2 separate regions of the Homo sapiens genome follow, and region 1 is linked to region 2. Evidence: fine-mapped QTL for protein levels in blood plasma. Region 2 holds a variant in brackets. A gene starts in the other region. All regions are shown on their forward strands.

Region 1 (10,952 bases), not on the chromosome of region 2:
CAAGGTCATTACCATAGCTATCTCATAATAAGTTTTTAGTTTGACTCGTGTTTTCAGTTGGCAATAAATATGTTTTTTGAGCAAAATTATAATAGCTATGTTGCTTTTTAAATTTGTACCCTTGTGTCTTTAACTATCTAATTTTAAAATTTATCACAAAACTCAAGTAGCATAAAGGAAAAAAATAAATGCCCTTATGCAAATGGCAATTTCTTAAACATAAACAATTGCATAGTCACAGACATACAGTCATAAAGTATTTTTCATGTTACAGAAAATAAGAAACAAAAACATTTTATTATAAGGAAGCAAAAGAAAATAAAGATGGAAAACAAAATATTTAAAAAATATAAAGAGATTTTAGAAATAGCCTTGTTCCCCGAGACTAGAACATGCAGAGAAAATATAATTAGAGGAAGTGACATCATTCAGTCAAATATCATCAACACTAGAGGCTCAGAGAGGGAAAATTGTTTGCCTAAAGAAATAAAAGAGACTTTCACTAAGTATATTTACACTAGTCTGGGAAATCAGCATAACGACATGACATAAATACCATTTATTTGTGACTCCAACTCAAATTGTTCTTCTGACTGAAAATAACCAATGTATTTAATAGATTACTGATTAGGATTTTTCCTTGATAAATGAAACTGCTAAGGATTAGTAGTAAAAATAATGTCCTCTTTTTTTATGTGACAGGAAACAAATTTTCATTATTTTAATCCGCTCCCAGATAATATTCAGGAGTCAAAAATTAAAAATCATGAAATGTCTGTATCTTCTAGACTTTGCTTTAATGTTATTTGTTGAAAAATTTTTTTATTTGATTAAAGTTTTCTTATGCATTTGTGGGATCAAGTACTTTATTTCAGAAGTGAATAAATTAGCTTAAAAAGTTAGAGCTTAGCCAGGCGTGGTGGCTCATGCCTGTAATCCCAGCACGTTGAGAGGCTGAGGCAGGCAGATCACTTGGGTCAGGAGTTTGAGACCAGCATGGCCAACATGGCAAAACCCCGTCCCTACTAAAAATACAAAGAAATTAGCCAGGTGTGGTGGCACACACCTTTTATCCCAGCTACTGTGTTGGTTGAGGCATGAGAATTGCTTGAACCTGGGAGACAGAGGTTGCAGTGAGCCAAGATCACACCACTGCACTCCAGCCTGGGTGACAGAGTGAGACTCCATCTCAAAAAACAAACAAACAAACAACAACAACAAAAAACACCTAGAGCTTAAAAAAGAAATTTTCTCATTCCAATGTTTGATTCTGGCTCTTGCATAAATGGAAGTATGTTTTGAAAATGCTCTGAATGATGCACCTATATATCATATAATTTTACCTACGCACACTGTATATATACGTATATGTATGAACATAACATTATTATACATAATATGTATATATTATAGATTATATTATATATACATTATATAAGGTATATAAATATTGCTTAGCATTAGATTTAGTAAAAAATAAAGGGCTAATGAAATTTTTTTGACAGGCCTCTGTCTCTTGATGTCCTGAAATGTTTATCTCACTACCATTAAGATAATCCAATAATCAAAAAGGCACCCCCTAGTCTGGTAGCATATAAACAATAAAGCATTTCAAAATGTAATTATTTACATTTAGAAAGTCATTATATTACTTTGATTAGCTTTAGAATAATTCCTGAGAATATCTTAAGTTCTCTAAAATTTTCCATTTTCCTCCTTTGCAATTCTAACCAACATTCTCTGTAATATTGAAGAAATGCTAAGCATTAAGAAACTTGCTTTGAAATTCTGGTCTCCATCATTCATTATAGTAAACCATTATTTCTTCTGCACATCTGGCTTACAGTAAAGTTGTATCAAATTATTCTGTTCATTTATTGCACAATTAGTTGTATTTCTTTTATAATATTTTTGCCTTAGGCAGTATCAAAACTTTTAATTATTATAAAATTAAAATTGTTATCAAATGGCTGTTCTTTGGTGGACTATATTATTTTACATAATTTTAATGCTATAAATTCTAATTCCTTCCCCACTATATTTAAAAAAAATTTAATTAATTACGCTGCATTAAATTTAAAGATGAAGACATTAAATTTGTAAATGAAAAGTTCTAAAAATAATATATAATTTTTAAAAACAATTACAAAACAGAAGTACATTAGTAGCATGCAAACATTTCAAAACTGGTATGTTTTAAGCAAGCATTGTAAAAGGATATATAAAAGAAATAAAAAGGAAGGAAAAAGTTATTGAACGAAGTATGTTTAATAAGTTAGCATTCACAAACGCTATAGGACTATAATGCTTAGGACTATAACCTAAGTCAGTGAGTTAAAAATGTACCCATAAACACAAGCTTAGAGACTCCTTTTAAGCTATTTCCTTCCAAATTTTTTCCTCTTTCTGAAAATGGAATATAACTGTGCTTTTGTATTTTTCTTAAGAATCCATACTCACTGAAAGCCTTACAAAGCTAAATATAGTTGATCCCTCAAGAAATGCAATAAAGAAAAATGTTTCTGAAGTTTTTTGACTTCTGAAGTGAAAATTGTCATATAGTCCATTTTATTTTTAATTTTTTATACTGAAACTGTAAACCTATCATTTACGTCAAACTCCCATGCAATTCATTCAAAATGTAAAGGAAATTATACAAAGTGAGACTCCATCTCAAAAAACCAACAAACAAACGACAACAACAAAAAACGCCTAGAGCTTAAAAAAGAAATTTTCTTATTCCAATGTTTGATTCTGGCTCTTGCATAAATGGAAGTATGTTTTGAAAATGCTCTGGGTGATGCACCTATATATCATATAATTTTACCTGCGCACACTGTATATATATGTATATGTATGTACGTAACATTATTATACATAATTATGTATATATTATAGATTATATATACATTATATAAGGTATATAAATATTGCTTAGCATTAGATTTAGTAAAAAATAAAGGGCTAATGAAATTTTTTTGACAGGCCTCTGTCTCTTGATGTCCTGAAATGTTCATCTCATTACCATTAAGATAATCCAATAATCAAAAAGGCACCCCCTAGTCTGGTAGCATATAAACAATAAAGCATTTCAAAATGTAATTATACATATTTAGAAAGTCATTATATTACTTTGATTAGCTTTAGAATAATTCCTGAGAATATCTTAAGTTCTCTAAAATTTTCCATTTTCCTCATTTGTAATTCTAACATACCTTATTTGTATATCTGTATATTTGTATATCTGTATATCTGTAACAAAAGATACATAATTCTAAATCTCTTCTCCAAGTAGCAGAAGCAGACTCCTTGCTAGTCAACCTGACTTCTTGCAAAAGCTAATGGTTGTTACCTGAGTTTTGGTTACTATCATACCTGTGAAATAAATTAGCATTATTACAAGCATGTCAAAAATGCAGAGACATTAAATAACTTGCCTAAAGTCAGAAGTGAGTCAGAGACCCAGCTCAGGTTCCATCCAGACACTCTGCTTCCCAGGATCCTGTAACTGCATTGGGAATTTGTAATTATTTCTCCATTATTTGATTAGAAATAGGGACAATGTTGATTCTGGCTTCAATCCAGAAACAAACATGTGGACACAGGTTTAACTGAAAGAAAGCTAAAAGAGAAGATTCAAGGACAAATCCCAATACTCTGATATTTTTCTTTTTTCCCCACTTGTATGACTTTTTGTGAAAGATCCAATAATATATCTTTATAAAGATATATATATTTTACAACTTATTATTATGTTCATTCAGAGAATTTTTGTACTGTAACTTCAATAATGTTCCATTGAAGATTAAGTAAAAACGAAGTCCAGCTGAAACTTTGCTTTGTATTAAGGGTAATAACATTTTACCCACAAAAATATGAATTAATATGTCATCTCAACTAAAATATGGAGATAAGCCAAATTTTTCCTAGTTATAAAAAACAAGGCAGGTTAATAATTGCCAAGGTGAAATGGTCAGTTTATTTGCTCTCTAAGAAAAACAAAAGTATTCCCTGAGGTGCAAAATTGTGAAATTTAACTGGAAGCATCGATTATACTCTGGACAAGTTGTTCCTTTTGTTTTAAAATCCTCTAGAAGATTTTCTAATGTGTAATAGGCACTTGTTAGCTCCATTAATCGTATTGTGTAACAGTTTCTTACTGGAAATCTGGGTTCATCATTTCTTCTTTCCTTCTGATGTAACTCAAGCAGTTGTTTGCCATTTGTCCTGTGGTCCCTATTTATTCACTCAGATTCCAGTAAAATACCAAAGTTTTGTTTTCTTTCTGTTCTTTGTTATCTACTGGACTTGAGCACTGACGATGTTTGGTCTTCCCATTAAACATCTTCCTGTCCTTCACGTGGACATTTTGAAGATTATTAAGGGAAAGGTAATCCTGTTGATTTACTGGAAAAAAGAAGGAAAAAAAAAGCCAGTTAGACTGAAGTGATTTGCACACACACAGAAGAAGTGGAAATTATACATTCATAATTGTAGAGAATTCAAGCTGCTAATGTTAAATTTCAAAAGCAAAAATATGGGATTATTCGGCTAATTCAATAATGATCTCTGTGGTAAAATGACATATTTTGAAATACAAACTTATCTTTCCTTCTTGTATGCCTTTAGCTTTGTCCCCATTCAAGCAATAATTTAGCCTTGTGTTCATTTCCTCACTGGAGGGACATAACATTAACAGCAGCTAACATGTGGTATACTTATCATGTGCTAAACATGGTAATTTTATCAACTCACTCAGCCACACAGCCCTATAAGTAGGTACTGTTAATGATCTCCATTTCACAAATGACGAAACTGAGACACAGAGGTTTAAGTGACTTGCACGAGGTCACACAGCTAACAAGAGGTATAGCTGGGCTCAAAGGCAATCCTGCTCAGAATCTGTCCTCTTTTCTACTAAAGGTAGACTATGCTGTCTTTCGGAAACTTGGCTAGCATCATTACCTCAGGAGAAACTTGCAAAAGTTAATCAGGCAGTAAGGACTACTCTAGGGCCAATACTTTGTGGAGGAATTCCAAAAGCCAAATTTTCTTGGAGTAACATTATTCCATGGATGTACTGCCATAACATGGTGGAAGAACTATCATCAGGAAAGGTCAAAATTATGGCCAGGTGCGGTGGCTCACGCCTGTAATCCCAACGCTTTGGGAGGCTGAGGCAGGTGGATCACCTGAGGTCAGGAGTTCGAGACCAGCCTGGCCAAAATGGCAAAACCCCATGTATTTTTAGTTTCTACTAAAACTACAAAAATTATCCAGGTGTGGTGGTGGGCGTCTGTGGTACCAGCTACACAGGAGGCTGAGGAGGAGAATTACTTGAACCCAGGAGGCAGAGATTGCAGTGAGCCGAGATCGCGCCACTGCACTGCAGCCTGGGTGACAGAGCAAGACCCTGTCAAAAAAAAAGAAAAAGAAAAAAAGCAAGAAAGAAGAGTTGTGACCTTGCACAACTGCACCAAAGCTATGAAATGAGAATGAGACCTGAGATCACTGGCTGAAAAAAGTACAAGAAAAGCATGATATAATAGGACAACAAGTACAGTCCCACCAAGATCAGGCTGATTAGGCTCTCAAACACATTAAACGGACACTGTCAATTCTTTTTTCCTTTTCCTTTTGGAAGACCTTTTTCAGAGAACTCTTCAATTAATACATCAGTTACAGCACAATTTTCATCCAAACCCTCTGGACCCTGTATTGTGCCTGCCAGATTGAACACCTGTCCATTATTTGATACTTGACCCAGTCACCGTGGGAAGGTTTAATTCCAGATCTTGCCGCCTCCAGTCCACTCAAGCTTGCAGCGAGGAACATGTCTACTTAAGGCTGCATGAGGAACTAGACTCAGACAAATGATCTTATATCCTTGACTGTATTCTACCAGCATAAATTTCTGATGGTTATATTTTCCAAACTTGACTCCCAGTTCAGGAGGCACCCTTTTATGGGACTTATAAAACTCCATGCTCTGATTACAATGATAACATTTTAAACTTCAAATGTGCCCTTTATTAAAATATTTAGAACGGAGCGTATTGTAGATATCAAGGAAAGGGGTTGTTAAGAACAGTCTTCGTTCCACACAACTAGCAGAGCTTCCTCAGGTGGAGGTAATCAAATTCCTTCCTGAAATGCTGGTTTCAATGTCATCTCAGGCAGAGTCCTGAAAAACTAGAAAGTTTATTTGCACATAACGTAGGTCTCAGAAATTTCAATGGAGAAGCATTTTAAAATTAATAAAACTAAAACAGTTTTACTAGTGAGTTATCCTAAGTATTCCCATTATTGATGTAACTAGCAGAAAGTTTACATTAATAGATGATCAATAAATAGTTCCACCTTCACACACACTTTCTGGGAAAGATTCTGACAATATGAACTAGAAAAATAAGGGTAAAGGTGGATAAAGAAAAAGAGGAAGAAAAGAAAAATTGAGGTGCTTTGTAATGTGTCAACTTGGGTAGGCCGAACTACAGTTCCCAGAATTCCTTTTGCCTTATGTTTTCCATTAGGAGCAGTTGGCAGGCAGAAAGGAAGTGGCAGCCATCTTTGCAGCTCTCCCATGCTGTAACGTATCTCGTTGGCCTTAAGATAGTGGCTAAGCCTCCAGCTGTTTCACTTCCCTTTGGATATAATTTGGAGCCTCGTTTAGCACATTACAAATGGGTCTGGCTTCTGTAGGACACCCACATCAACCAAGGTCAGAGGCAACAAGAACTGACACAGGTTTCAGTCCGTCCTCATAGATTCCAGCTCCTGCTTCTATTACGCTCATCTACTCTCTCGCTTAACTGCAGTTCGTACTTCAAGCTCCAACATCATCCCTGGAGACAGCTGCCTTTCAAAGAGTACTTAACCAGCTCCCACAGTTGCATTAAGTCAAATCCCTTATATATCCTAGAAGCTCTGCTTCTATGATTGAACTCTGCCTGTAACTCTGAGGCTCCTGGACAGGAAAGTCGAATGCCTCAGAAGGAATTTTGTCACTGCACCATTATTTCTTCCTCCCAGAGCTCTCTGTTCTTTTGCTCACATCTGGATTGCTCTCCCTCTAGGCCTGCTACATGAGGCATGTAAAAAGTAATACTGATAGACATTTGGCAGATACTCCCAAATGTGTAGCTTCAGGTTCCACACAACCTATGTCCTCCCCTGCATACTAGTTAAGATAAAATGAAACGCTTATTCACTACTCATCTTTTCAGAGCTTTCTCACCTATGTGTTTGGATTTTTTTCCCCTCTGATTCTCAAACTAATTTTAGATTGGTTCCCTAGCAGGAAGAGTACAAAGATGTTTTCTTTTTTTTTTTCTGCCACAAAAAATAAAAAGTGTTCTTGCTGAGGAATATGTTTGTTTTTCTTTCTGTGTGTTTGCAAGGACTGTGGACTGGCATTTATTTTATGCTTCTGAATAATAACATCTTTCTTATTAAAGAAGAATCTCCCCAGAAGGTCACATGTCATTAAAAAAACAATTTTAACCAAATACACGTAAATTCTAATAGAAAACAGATTTTTTACCCGTAACACATGAAGAAGAAATTTAGCTATATTGTATAAAAATATGTAGGGAAAAAAGAACACAAGAGCTCGTGTTAAGTAAAACCACATTTTAAAATACGCCTTTAGGAACACGGAAGATGGAAGGTATCAGAAGATACTTGCTTTCATTCTACTCCTCGGTGATGATGTATCTGCTTTTTTTTTTTTTTTTTTGGATGAATTTGCAGTGTATCTTTTCATCCTGATGCCTAAATCCAGTCTCTATATGTACCTCTTTTCTCCAGTTTTTAGACTTTTAAAATATTATCTTTTCATGAAGAATTCAACTAATTGGAAAATGCGTGATTCCTACCACTATGACAATATCTGAAAGTAGAATCCTCAGGGTTGCAAGCTATTCTGACAAAATTTCTGAACTCTAGCAGAAAATGTAAAAATATACATTTGACAAAAATATATTTGCCCATTTGAATTTAAATTTTGTCTTTTTTTTACTCAGTTTTTATTTCTTAGAAAAAGGAAGACAATCTAAATATAATTCCCTGAGATATAGTTTCCTTTCACTTCAAAATAACTGTACATTAGGTTGAGAGACAAAAAAATTCATTGTCTACAATTACACATACTTTCTGATTAATCTGTTGGTTAGCCCACATTTAGTTCATCAGGCACAACTTATTTTTCTGCATGTGCATTTGGGACAATAACCGGGCATATGAAACCTTTAAAATTTACATTTAAAAATTTATATTTGCACTTGGATAACTTTGCCAATAACTAGAACTCCCTCAAAAACAAAGGCTAGGTCCCTGACTCCTATAGGCATGACCAAGAGTATACTACAAAATGATTCCTCTGAGACTGAAATGTTTTTTTCCTGCTTCCCCCTCAGAGACACATTGTGGAAAAATTCTAGAACTTTTAGAATAGACATTGTGTGCTTGACTCCAGCGATCAAAGATTCTGAAATATTGAGGCCCTATTTGAGAGTCATACACTTATACTAGTTTTATTTGTTGTTGTTGTTTATAATCTGAAGAAATGAACTTCAGCCATCTAGAACAAAAATAATTGGATTTGTTGGAGGGTTACGGACTGAGGTAAGTAGTACAATCAGTGACAGACTGATACAAGCCAAGGGAAGGCAGAATAAGGAAAGCTCCAAAAATCTCTCAAAGATGTGTTCTTGGATTTATTCTGTAGTATGCAGCCCTTAAAATGTTTTAATTTCAGTGGAATTCTGGCCTCTGTGTCTGTCCATACAAATCTCACATCCCTAAGAGGGAGAATCCAATTAGCCCAGTCATCGGTATTTCTTTCTGTTTTTTTCTTTTTCTTTCTTTCTTCCTTCCTTCCTTCCTTCCTTTCCTTTCCTTTCTTTCTTTCTTTTTCTTTCTTTCTTTCTTCTTTCTTTCTTTCTTTTTTTTTTTTTTGAGACAGAGTCTCACTCTGTTGCCTGGCTGGAGGATAGTGGTGCAATCTCAGCTCACTGCAACCTCCACCTCCCGGGTTCCAGCAATTCTCCTGCGTCAGCATCCCACGTAGCTGGGACTTGGGCATGCACCACCATGCCCAGCTAATTTTTGTATTTTTAGTAGAGATGGGGTTTTACCATGTTGGCCAGGAGGTCTCGATCTCTTGACCTCATGATCCGCCCACCTCGGCCTACCAAAGTGCTGGGATTACAGGCGTGAGCTACCACACCCAGCCATCTGTGTATTTCAGTGTACACCTAGATATATGGCACCCACACACTGAGGCCACACCTTTACTCCCTGGCCCCAAAATTTTTGTCAAATGTGGCTGCTGGGTGATCTGTTGTGAGCAAGAAAAGCTCCATAGTATGTGCCATTCTCCTACTACAAAATTAGGAAATTTCAAGAGAAATGAAAGGTGGGGATCTGTCCAGTTTAATGGAAGATTGCCTGGCTCAATAAAGATGCTCGGCAAGCCTAAGACTGCATCTCCAATGACTCTTTCACCAATGAATTAACCATAATACATGTACCCTTTTCTATTGCTGTGATGTATATAGTTGTTACCTTTTTATTTGCCTATTCTAATTTCTATGTACCCTCTCTGAATGAAATAAGTCTTAATTAGCCACCAGCCCTTCTCCTAGCCCATCCACCAAGGCTAGATGTTCTCCTATGTATTTACTTCTCTTATATCACACATCACTATATTGTGTACTGGAGCTTCTCTTTTCATTCCAGGGAGATCAGGGGCTTGTTTTTTCTTATTTCAATATCCACAGCACCCAGCATATGCACACCACACAATAGAAGCTCAGAAATATTTATTATGCATGGAATAGTAATATCACCTATTTGTATTAGCATATAATGTAAATATTCAAAATTGGTAACGATTAAACTTGATAACTTACATGAAGTGCTTATGACAATGCCTGATAGAAAATATGCGATAAATTTTCGTTTCCTTCTGTCTTGAAACAATGTCATGATTGTTTAATTCGTTCTGTAAAGAAGGAGGCAGCAGGCTGGCTCCTGGGATTGGTGGCTTACACCTGTAATCCCAGCACTTTAGGAGGCCAAGACGTGTGGATCATCTGAGGTCAGGAGTTTGAGACCAGTCTGGCCAACATGGTGAAATCCCATCTCTACTAAAAATACAAAAACAGCCAGCTGTGGTGGCAGGTGCCTGTAATCCCAACTACTAGGGAGGCTGAGGCAGGAGGATCACTTGAACCTGGGAGGTGGAGGCAAGATCACACCATTGCACTCCAGCCTGGGCAACAGAGTAAGACCCTGTCTCAAAAAAAAGAGTGAGGCAGCAATGTACAACCAAAGATAATACATCATTTCATGAAGATAATTCCAATGTTAGATTAGGAAGCTACCATGTCCAGCCTGCTGCATCATTCTTTACAGAACGAATGAAAGAGTCATGATGTTATTCTTAATAATGTAGAACTATTTGTGAAATGTGGATGCAGTGAACGTTGATGCAGACAATACAATGCCCCTAAACTCATTTTACTAAGATTCCCAAATTTACTCATGCTTTAGCACAAGAATTTTACATTTCAGTTAAGAAAGGTGAAAGAAACTTCTTTAATCTGTAATGGAAGACCTTGTAGCAGAACAAAATTGCTACCAAGAAAGTTGAAAAGTAGATATATATAAGAAAAATGTTTTTGTGACCTGGATTCACAAAGTCTGGGATAATGTTCTTGCTCAACAACTATTTAAATTGGGATTCCCTGAAAGCAGAGCCTGAGACAAAGATTTGGATACAAGTAGTTTATTTGGGAGGTGATTCCAGGGAGCATAAACAAGGGTGTGGTCAAATGAAATAGAACAGGGAGGAAAGCCAAAAAGTACCTAATGAGTGGGGGTACACTCATAGACAACTGAGGCTCCAACCTACTGAAACCTCTGAGAGCCCCACATCAGAATTTTCC
Region 2 (10,917 bases):
CTCCTAATACACCCTCTGTCCTTTCCCACCTTGTCTCTGCCCTGGAGGCTGACTCTATGGATTGCATCACCAACATCTTCTTGTGTCTAGTGTCTGGTTGAGTTCAGCCATGGGAGGCACTGTCAGGAGAGCAGAGGGTGAGAGGAGAGAGAGGCCGGGGAATCTATTCCCACACGTACGCCCTGCCAGGCAATAAACTGTGCTCCTCTACCCATGACATAAGCTCCCACGAGGCACCTCCCATCTCCCAGCTCAGTCCTCAAGGTGACTTTCCAGAGACCTAGTTACATTCGGCTGTTACTAAAGAGTCAGCTACAGTCATCTAGCTGTTTCCAGTGACCACCCCCAATCCCCCATAGCTGCCTGCCTGTTTGCAGAGACCCAGCTACATGCACCTAGCTGTTTCTAGAGACCCGGCTACATCCACCTGGCTGTTTCCAGAGACCCGGCTACATCCACCTGGCTGTTTCCAGAGACCCGGCTACATCCACCTGACTGTTTCCAGAGACCCGGCTACATCCGCTGGCTGTTTCTAGAGACCCGGCTACATCCACCCAGCTGATTTCATTATCACTGACGCAGTCCCCAGCTGCTCCTATGTCTCCTGGAAATCCCCAATTGCCCCAGAGACTTTGTTGTAATTTTCTGTTCAGCTGACTCTAGGGATCTTCCTGGAGCTTAATTGCTGGCCTTAAGAATGGGCCATATTTATGCAACTGAGAGCAGAGCCCAGTTCTCTGGGCCATGCTTTCCTTTGTACATCAACAAATAATCCTAAAGACCTAAAGTCTGGCAATCCCACGCCAGGTCCTAGGGTGCACAGGTCACCTGCATCCAGTCTTTGCCTTCACAGTTATTCAAAGCTGAGCAGGGAAAAAGGAGAGCCACAGAGAAGTTCAGTGTTTTCCTTTTTATCTTTTTAAAAAATCCTTTTTTATCCTTAAAATGATTTAATCAACCAAGATTGTATATATTGAGGTGTACAACATGATGATTTGATATACGTATACATTGTGTAATGATTGCCACAATCAAATTAGCACACTCAGGACAACCAGTGCCCTAAATAGATCCCCTGGATTTGTACACGTTATGCCTTAAAGTTGGTGCCAGAGTTCCATTTATTTATTTTTATCCATATATAATAGTTGTATATAGGTTTGGGGTACTTATGATATTTTGATACTTGTATGCAATGGGTAATAATAAAATCAGGGTAATTAGAATATCCATCACCTCAAATATTTATCTTTTCTTTTTGTTGGGGAGCATTACAATTCTTTTATTCTAGTTGTTTTGAAATACACAATATATTATTGTTAACTATACTTCCCCTACTGTACTGTCAAATACTCAGTTATTTCTCCTATCCAGCTGTATTTCTATACTCCGTAACTAACATCTCCTTATCTCCCACCCTTTCCAGCTCTAGTAACCACCAGTCTACACATTTTTTTTTTTTGAGACAGAGTCTTGCTGTGTCACCCAGGATGGAATGCAGTGGCGTGATCTTGGCTCACTGCAACCTTTGCCTCCTGGGTTCAAGAGATTCGCCTGCCTCAGCCTCCTGAGTAGCTGGGATTACAGATGCATGCCACCACGCCAGGCTAAAGACAGGGTTTCACCATGTTGGCCAGGATGGTCTCGAACTCTTGACCTCAAGTGATCCACCCGCCTCAGCCTCCCAAAGTGCTGGGATTACAGGCATGAGCCACCACGCCCGGCCTTTTTTTTTTCTTTTGAGACAAGGTATTGCTCTGTTGCCCAAGCTGGAATGCAGTGACACAATCATGGCTCACTGCAGCCTCAACCCTCCAGGGCTCAAGCGATCCTCCTGCCTCAGACTCCCGAGTAGCTAGGACCACAGTGCACACCACCACGCCCAACTAATTTTTGTATGTTTCGTAGAGAAGGGGTTTTGCCACATTGGCCAGGCTGGTCTGGAACTCCTGACCTCAAGTGAACCACCTGCCTTGGCCTCCCAAATCACTGGGATTACAGGCACAAGCCACCACACCTGGCCAACCAGTCTACTCTCTCTGTTTAGGAATCCACTTCTTTAGCTCCCACGTATGAGTGAGAACATTCGAGATTTGTCTTTCTGTTCCTGGCTTATTTCACTGACCATAATGACCTCCAGTTCCAACTATGTTGCTGTAAATGTCAGGATTTCATTCTTTTTTATGGATGACCCCTCTTCCATTGTGTATACATACCACATTTTCTTTACCCTTTTATCCACTGATGGACACTTAGGTTGATTCCGTATGCTGACTTGTGAAGAGTGCTGCAATAAACACACGGGTGCAGGGACTCTTGTGATGTCCTGAGATTTTTTTCCTTTGCATGAATATTCAGTAGTGAACTCACTGGATTTTACGATAATTGCAGTTTCAGTATCTTGAGGAATCTCCGTGTTTTTTTTTTTTTTCTTTTTTTGAGACAGAGTCTCACTGTCGCCCAGGCTGGAGTGCAGTGGCGTGATCTCGGCTCACTGTAGGCTCTGCCCCTCGGGGTTCACACCATTCTCCTGCCTCAGCCTCCCGAGTAGCTGGGACTACAGGTGCCTGCCACCTCGCCTGGCTAATTTTTTGTATTTTTAGTAGAGACAGGGTTTCACCCTGTTGGCCAGGATGGTCTTGATCTCCTGACCTCGTGATCCGCCCGCCTCGGCCTCCCAAAGTGCTGGGATTACAGGTGTGAGCCACCGCGCCCGGCCGGAATCTCCATGTTTTCCATAATGGCTGTACTAATTTATATTCCCACCAACAGTGTCTAAGAGTTATTTTGTCAGCACATCCTCACCAGCATGTTTTTATTTTATTTTATTGATCTATTTATTTATTTGTTTGTTTGTTTAGATGGAGTCTCACTCTGTCGCCCAGGCTGGAGTGCAGTGGTGCCATCTCAGCTCACTGCAACCTCCAGCTCCTGGGTGCAAGCGATTCTCTTCCCTCAGCCTCCCGAGTAGCAGGAGCCTCCTGATTACAGGCGGGCGCCACCACGCCCGGCTAATTTTTGTCTTTTTAGTAGAGACGGGGTTTCAACATGTTGGCCAGGCTGGTCTCAAACTCCTGACCTCGTGATCCGCCTGCCTCGGCCTCCCAAAGTGCTGAGATTACAGGCGTGAACCACTGTGCCCAGCCCAGCATGTTTTTATATGTTTCTTTGATAATAGACATTTTAACTGAAATAAGATGATACTCATTGTAGTTTCGATTTGATGCCAGTGATGATTGTGGGTTTTTGTTTGTTTGTTTGTGTTTTGAGATGAAGTCTCGCTCTGTCACCCAGATTGGAGTGCAGTAGTGTGATCTTGGCTCACTGCAACCTCTGCCTACTGGGTTCAAGTGAGCCTCCTGCCTCAGCCTCCTCAGTAGATGGGACTACAGGTGTATGCCACCACGCCCAGCTGTTTTTTTTTCTTTTTTTGTATTTTTGGTAGAGATGAGGTTTCACCATGTTGCCCAGGCTGGTCTCAAACTCCTGGGTTCAAGTGATCCACCTGCTTTGGCCTCCCAAAGTGCTGGGATTACAGGTGTGAGCCACCGCGCTTGGCCGATGATTAGTGTTTTATATAGCTGTTGGCCATCTGTACATTTTCTTTTGAGAAGCAACTATTCAGATGCTTTGCATACTTGTTAATGGAATTATCTGGGGATTTTTTGTTGAGGTGTGTTTCTTCTAGGCCTAATTTGTTGATAGTTTTAATGATGAAGGGATGTTGAATTTTGTCAAATGTTTTTTTAACATCTATTGTGATGATCATATAATTTTTTTTTTTTTTTTTAGACAGAGGGTCTCTCCTTCACCCAGGCAGGAGTGCAGTGGCGCGATCTTGGCTCACTGCAACTTCCACCTCCTGGGTTCAAGAGATTCTCCTGTCTCAGCCTCCCGAGTAGCTGGACTACCGGTGCACACCACCACACCCAGTTAATATTTTGCATTTTTGAGAGAGATGGGGTTTCATCATGTTGGCCAGGCTGATCTCGATCTCCTGACCTCAAGTGATCCACCCATCTCAATCTCCCAAAGTGCTGGGATTGCAGGCATGAACCACCGCGCCTGCCCATGATTATATGTTTTTTGTTCTTCCTTCTGTTGACATGAGATATCATATCTATTGATTTGAGAATGTTGAAATATCCTCCCTTCTGGCTGCTGTGTGGACTGCGAGCTCTCCTACCCTCCATGGTCTTCCAATCCCACTGTCCCCAGGCCAACTGCTCCCAGACTATGCAGTAGTCTCATGTGCATGGAGCAGTTGCAATTGATCCTGGTGGTGACAGAGGGGTTGGTGTTTCAGGCATGGCACAGTCAGAGGAGGTCCCAAGGAGAGACCAAGAGGTAAACTTAAGTAGAGCTGCACCCCTTCCTTGGCATCTGTAGAACCCTGGATAAAATCAAATACGCCAACCCAAATGCCCATCAATGATAGACTGGATAAAGAAAATGTGGCACATATACACCATGGAATACTATGCAGCCACAAAAAAGGATGAGTTCATGTCCTTTGCAGGGACACAGATGAAGCTGAAAACCATCATTCTCTGCAAACTAACACGAGAACAGAAAACCAAACATCACGTGTCCTCACTCATAGGTGGGAGTTGAGCAATGAGAACACATGGACACGAAGAGGGGAAAATCACACACCGGCACCTGTCACGGGCTGGGGGGCTGGGGGAGGGATAGCATTAGAAGAAATACCTAATATAGACAACAGGTTGATGGGTGCAGCAAAATACCATGGCACGTGTATACCTATGTAACAAACCTGCACGTTCTGCACATGTATCCCAGAACTTGAAGTATAATAATAAAAAAAAAGAAAACGAAACAATGAAACATGGGTTCTTATGAATCACAGAACACCCGTGACCCCAAGTTAAGATGGAAATTTATGATTCATTCCAACTAGGTCCTGTTTTCAGTATCTCACAAAAGCTTGACTCTAGAGTGAAATATACTTGGAAATGAATGAACGACTCTTGTGGTCTTTTTACTTCTTGTAAGGCTTTAGGATCCACCCGTTTGAATACCTATGACCAGGACCTCCTGCAATGCTTCTCTCTCCACCTCCAGGCATCCCTTCATTCAGATAATACCAATTCATCATCACCATCTGACCTCTCCTTCAGCTTCTTCACCACCCTCCATCTCAATTGCTTTCTGTTTTTCTTCTTTATTTTTTGAACTTCAACTTTTATTTTAGATACGAGGATACATGCTCAGGTTTGCTACATGGAACTATTGCACCCAGGTGGTGAGTGCAGGACCCAGTGGGTATTTCTTTTATCCTGTCCTATTGCGTTAAATCTTTCCTTCCCGGGACTGGTCCTATCTCTAAACTTTTTGCGTAGTGATTTTATCAACTTAATTTTTGCTAGGATGCTAGATTTTCTAGGAGGGGAGGTAATTTGAAATGAAGTCTGGGTTACTGTGAATCCAGTATATCTGCTTTGCTCGCCTTTATCTCTTGTGTCCTGGGATGGCCACAGGTTGACATGTTTAAATGTTTCTTAAGTGAGGATGGATAAGATTTACTGAGTGGTGAGTGCACGAATACAAAAGCAAAATGAGGCCGGGCGCGGTGGCTCACGCCTGTAATCCCAGCACTTTGGGAGGCCAAGGCGGGCAGATCACCTGAGGTCAGGAGTTCGAAACCAGCCTGGCCAACATGGTGAAACCCCATCTCTACTAAAAATACAAAAGTTAGCCGGGTGTGGTGGCAGCTGCCTGTAATCTCAGCTCTCAGCTACTCGGGAGGCTGAGTTAGGAGAATTGTTTGAACCCAGGAGGCCGAGGTTGCAGTAAGCCAAGATTGCACCACTGCACTCCAGCCTGGATGACAGAGTGTCACCCTGTCACAAAAAAAAAAAAAAAAAAGAAGCAAAATACAAGAAGTCCAGGACTGGTAAAGGCAAGGCATGTTGAGCGGTTAGAAAAGGGGTGATGACATCGAAAAACCTCCTGGCATTTCCCAGTCCTTGCCTAGCACAGGTTACTCTGAAAGCAGGACTTAAGACAAGGATATGAGCGCAGGTAACTGATTTGGGAACCAAGTTTAAGGGAATAGGGTTCCCTTATGAAAGAGAGAAGGAGAGGAATTCCTGAAATCAGCATGCATTGCGGACACCACTACAGCAGGTAATATGGACAGGTCCACACCAGGATCTCTGATAATGTGCAGACCATCATCCAGAACTTCCCGCCAAAACAGGAGATACTCGCCAATATGTGTATGGCTTTCTAGCCCCCATTTCTGGGAGTTTCTTTTTCCCCAGCCACTGTCAGACGCATCAAGCTTTGGCTGAAATAGCTTCCAATAAGGTCCTTACACACAAATGTGGAGAGACACATGGAAATCCTCGAAATGAGATACTGTCCCGTGATTCTGAGAGTGACCCAAAAGGATACGGAATGAGGTACTAAAAGCAGGTGCTTGGAAACCTGAGGGCAGTGGTGTTCATGCGTTTCCCGGCACTTTGACTTTCAGCCTCCTGCAAGCCTCTCCTTCTTTGCCTTCCTGACCGTTAGATACAATTAATTTGGGGTTTGTTTTTTCTGCTTCCTCTTTCCCCTCCCACCCTATGTTTCAGTTCTAAAGTTAGAAGGTCCTCTCATCCTTTTAAGAAGAACAGAGACAGAAAATGGTTAGTCACCATCTAGGACAGACTACAATTCCAGATCATTGCAGGACGTGCCCACTCAAATGGATGATTATTGAGAGCTGGCCACCTGAAGTGTTTTACACAGGCAGTGATCTAAGGGTTGAAGCTATCTGGCCTTTTTGCTTGCTTGTTATGTATTTATGGCTTTTTTCCTTTTCAAAATAATTTTACTAAATATTTAATTCACCAACTATATATATTTATGGGGTACAATGTGTTATAAATGTATACACTGTGGAATGATGGAATCAAGACAGTTAACATGTCCATCACTCCGCATACTAACATCTGTGAAAACATTTAAAATCTATGCTTGGCTGGGCGTGGTGGCTCATGCCTGTAACCCCAGCAACTTTGAGAGGCTGAGATGGGCGGATCACCAGAGGTCAGGAGTTCGAGACCGGCCTGGCCAACATGGTGAAACCCCATCTCTATTAAAAATACAAAAATTAGCTGTGAGTGGTGGCGGGTGCCTGTAATCCCAGCTACACAGGAGGCTAAAGCAGGAGAGTCTCCTGAACCCAGGAGGCGGAGGTTGCAGTGAGCTGAGATCACACCACAGCACTCTAGCCTGGGCGACAGAGTGAGACTGCATCTCAGAAAAGAAAAAATATATATATATATTTTGGAGCTACATCGTGCTAGCGCTGCAGAGAATGAGTTTTGTTTTGCGACACAGTTTTTAGATGTCTACCGGGCTCTGGTGGAGATGGAATGTTTGGCCTCAAGTGGGCAGGTCCCATGGGACATGAGTAGCCGACCATGACCTGGCTGCGTACTGGCCCACCAAGCATTCGACTGGCGTGCCCAGCCACTCTCCGTCATCGCAGAGAAGTGCTCTATGTGAGATTTGGTTAAAGGAGTCCCTGAAGGCCTGTGGGAGGCAGAATAGTGACCTCCCAGAGATGTCCACCTCCTGAGGCCCAGACCCTGTGAGTTGGGGAAGCTTATGTGGCAAAAGGGACTTTGCAGATGTGATTAAGTCAAGGATCTTGGGTTGGGGAGATTACCCAGGTGGGCCTGATGTAATCACAAGGGGCTGAGTAAGTGAAAGAGGAAGACAGGAGGGTCAGAGTGAGAGAAGGAGGTGAGTGCATGGAAGCAGGGGGCAGATAACGGGACTGGTGGCTTTGAGGTTGGAGGGAATGGAGAGGCAGGAATGCGGGAGCCTGCAGAGGCTTGAACAGGCGAGGGAACAGATTCTCCTTGGAGCCTCCAGGAGGACACGGCTCTGATAGCAGCTTCATTTTAGCCCAGGGAGACCCATTTTGGACTTGTGACCTCCGGGACGGTAAGTCAATAAACCTACATTATGTGAAGCCACTAAGCTTGTGGTGATTTGTTATGGCAGCAAAAGGAAGCTTTATGGTTCATCTGTACCCTGAAAATGCAGGTTTTTGGTTTTTTTTTTTTTTCACTTGTTCAATGATGTACCCCCAGTGTCAGGCGCTTTGCAAACACACGATACATACGGGTTGATGTTTGGTCAAGAGAGGAATTAAGACCAGGCAGACAGCAGGCTGGGATCAGAGAGACCCCATTTCTGTCTGAAATGTCTGCAGAGAACCTGGTGCCTGCCTCAGCCCTAGCTCTGGGGAAATGAAAGCCAGGCTGGGGTTCAAATGAGGGCAGTTTCCCTTCCTGTGGGCTGCTGATGGAACAACCCCATGACGAGAAGGACCCAGCCTCCAAGCGGCCACACCCTGTGTGTCTCTTTGTCCTGCCGGCACTGAGGACTCATCCATCTGCACAGCTGGGGCCCCTGGGAGGAGACGCCATGATCCCCACCTTCACGGCTCTGCTCTGCCTCGGTGAGATTTAAAGAGGGGGAGGGGAGACCCGAGTCTTGGAGGAAATTTGCCTCACAGCCAGGCCCTGGTTCTTTAGGAGACTCAAAAATCTCAGGGTAGCCGGGCGCGGTGGCTCACGCCTGTAATCCCAGCACTTTGGGAGGCCGAGGCGGGCGGATCACGAGGTCAGGAGATCGAGACCATCCTGGCTAACACGGTGAAACCCTGTCTCTACTAAAAATACAAAAAATTAGCCGGGGGTGGTTGCAGGCGCCTGTGGTCCCAGCCACTCGGGAGGCTGAGGCAGGAGAATGGCGTGAACCCGGGAGGCGGAGCTTGCAGTGAGCCAAGATCGCACCACCGCACTCCAGCCTGGGTGACAGCGAGACTCCGTCTCAAAAAAAAAAAAAAAAAAAAATCTCAGGGTAAAGAGAGGACCTGCTCAGGCTTCCGGGGCAAATCCCTCACAGGGAACTCTCTTCCAGGGCTGAGTCTGGGCCCCAGGACCCACATGCAGGCAGGTGAGTCTGTCCCCAGCTGTCCCAGGTCCCTCCTCCTCACTGGGACAAGGGGCCACCCATGGGCAGCTGGGGGAGGAGACAGCAGTTCTGGGTGACTGATGAGGATGACGGGGGGGTCCTGGGGCTGAGAGCTGGGATCTGAGGGCTGAGGAAGGTCTTGGGATCCAGCCTCTGATTTTCTTCCAGGGCCCCTCCCCAAACCCACCCTCTGGGCTGAGCCAGGCTCTGTGATCAGCTGGGGGAACTCTGTGACCATCTGGTGTCAGGGGACCCTGGAGGCTCGGGAGTACCGTCTGGATAAAGAGGAAAGCCCAGCACCCTGGGACAGACAGAACCCACTGGAGCCCAAGAACAAGGCCAGATTCTCCATCCCATCCATGACAGAGGACTATGCAGGGAGATACCGCTGTTACTATCGCAGCCCTGTAGGCTGGTCACAGCCCAGTGACCCCCTGGAGCTGGTGATGACAGGTGAGAGGACACTCAGGGGTCCCAGCCCCAGGCTCTGCCCTCAGGAAGGGGGTCAGCTCTCAGGGGCATCTCCCTCTCACAGCCCAGCCCTGGGGATGATGTGGGAGGTGGGAGCCCCATTTAACACGGTGCCTCCTTCTCTCCTAGGAGCCTACAGTAAACCCACCCTTTCAGCCCTGCCGAGTCCTCTTGTGACCTCAGGAAAGAGCGTGACCCTGCTGTGTCAGTCACGGAGCCCAATGGACACTTTTCTTCTGATCAAGGAGCGGGCAGCCCATCCCCTACTGCATCTGAGATCAGAGCACGGAGCTCAGCAGCACCAGGCTGAATTCCCCATGAGTCCTGTGACCTCAGTGCACGGGGGGACCTACAGGTGCTTCAGCTCACACGGCTTCTCCCACTACCTGCTGTCACACCCCAGTGACCCCCTGGAGCTCATAGTCTCAGGTGAGGCTCCTGACCCTGTCCTCTCTGAGCTCAGTGGCTCCGTTCATGCCCTGCTGCCAGGAGAGCTCTGGGCAGGGATGGAGGGAGAGGGGCTCAGCCAGTGGGGGACTCAGCCCTCAGAGGGGAGGAGGACAACAGGGGCCCTCCCAGGCATGCCCATGCTCTTCTCCCTCACCTAGGGTCCAGAAGGTGCCAGGTGGACAGAGAAATGGTCCTTGGGAAGCTGCAGGGCAGATATAGGGAGAGGTTCAATTTGATGTGGAGACCCAAGGGCAACCCCAGACTCTCACCCTCCTCTTGTCCTTCTACCCAGGATCCTTGGAGG[G/A]TCCCAGGCCCTCACCCACAAGGTCCGTCTCAACAGCTGGTGAGTCTCAGAGGCCTCTGTCCAGAGAGTTTCCAAAGCCCGAGGCCTGTCTCAAGACATGCTCAGTGGATCTAAGTCCTCGTTCCAATTCTCAGCTGGGCTTGCTTCCACGGGTGTGGGAGTCGGGCAGCGACTTGGGAGGCACCACAGGCTCCCAAGGCCCTGAGGCTGGGCTGGTGAGGGGTGAGGGGGTCAAGGCTGAAGGAGATGTTGCGGGGAGAAGCCGAGCTGATGTGGGGAGCAGGGCAGCCCCAGCCCTCACATCCCTGTTCTAACCCAGCAGGCCCTGAGGACCAGCCCCTCATGCCTACAGGGTCAGTCCCCCACAGTGGTGAGTGAGGGGCTCTGAGTGGGAGGTGGGCAGGGTCTAGGGGAGCCAAGGGTGGGTTCTGTCCTAGGTTAAGGCTCCTCTGGAGGTGGTGATGTGGACAGGCCCCTCCCCTGCATGGGCCTCAGTTTCTCCAAGTGTAAAGGAGAGAGGCCTGCGGGTGGGAAAGTTCCTTTCAGCTCTGACTCCCAGCTGTGCCCTCCTGGGAGAGGAGGCCTCCCAGGGAACCTCCCAGACCCGATTCCGCAGGGGCCTGTCCGGTCCCACCTGCAGCAGAGACGGTGACCTGGGGCAGGGGAGGGGAGCAGGGCGGTGGTTCAAG

Alleles and levels. Alleles are on the strand shown, and positions count from the first base shown. The strength of an association depends on the size of the effect and on how common the allele is.
In carriers of allele A in region 2, the plasma level of the protein whose gene starts at base 3,515 in region 1 tends to be higher than with G alone (moderate association).

What was found. PIP is the chance, under the fine-mapping model, that this variant and not a neighbour inherited with it causes the effect. The UK Biobank Pharma Proteomics Project read protein levels with antibody pairs (Olink). The fine-mapping took linkage between variants from a reference panel, not from the people measured, so its PIPs are less certain.
Region 1: it holds the start of FGL1, and the variant in region 2 is fine-mapped to the plasma level of the FGL1 protein (UK Biobank, PIP above 0.99).

What each region holds. Positions count from the first base shown.
Region 1 is chr8:17,892,010-17,902,961 of GRCh38, forward strand. FGL1 (fibrinogen like 1) reads right to left here and starts at 3,515. Exons shown (of 8, transcript NM_004467.4): 1 at 3,438-3,515. LOC124901892 (endogenous retrovirus group K member 25 Env polyprotein-like) reads right to left here. Exons shown (of 1, transcript XM_047422511.1): 1 at 10,777-10,952.
Region 2 is chr19:54,654,583-54,665,499 of GRCh38, forward strand. LILRB4 (leukocyte immunoglobulin like receptor B4) reads left to right here and starts at 8,403. Exons shown (of 12, transcript NM_001278426.4): 1 at 8,403-8,485; 2 at 8,950-8,985; 3 at 9,172-9,456; 4 at 9,604-9,903; 5 at 10,217-10,267; 6 at 10,548-10,598. The coding sequence starts at 8,452. The variant G/A (reference allele first, on the strand shown) is at 10,229.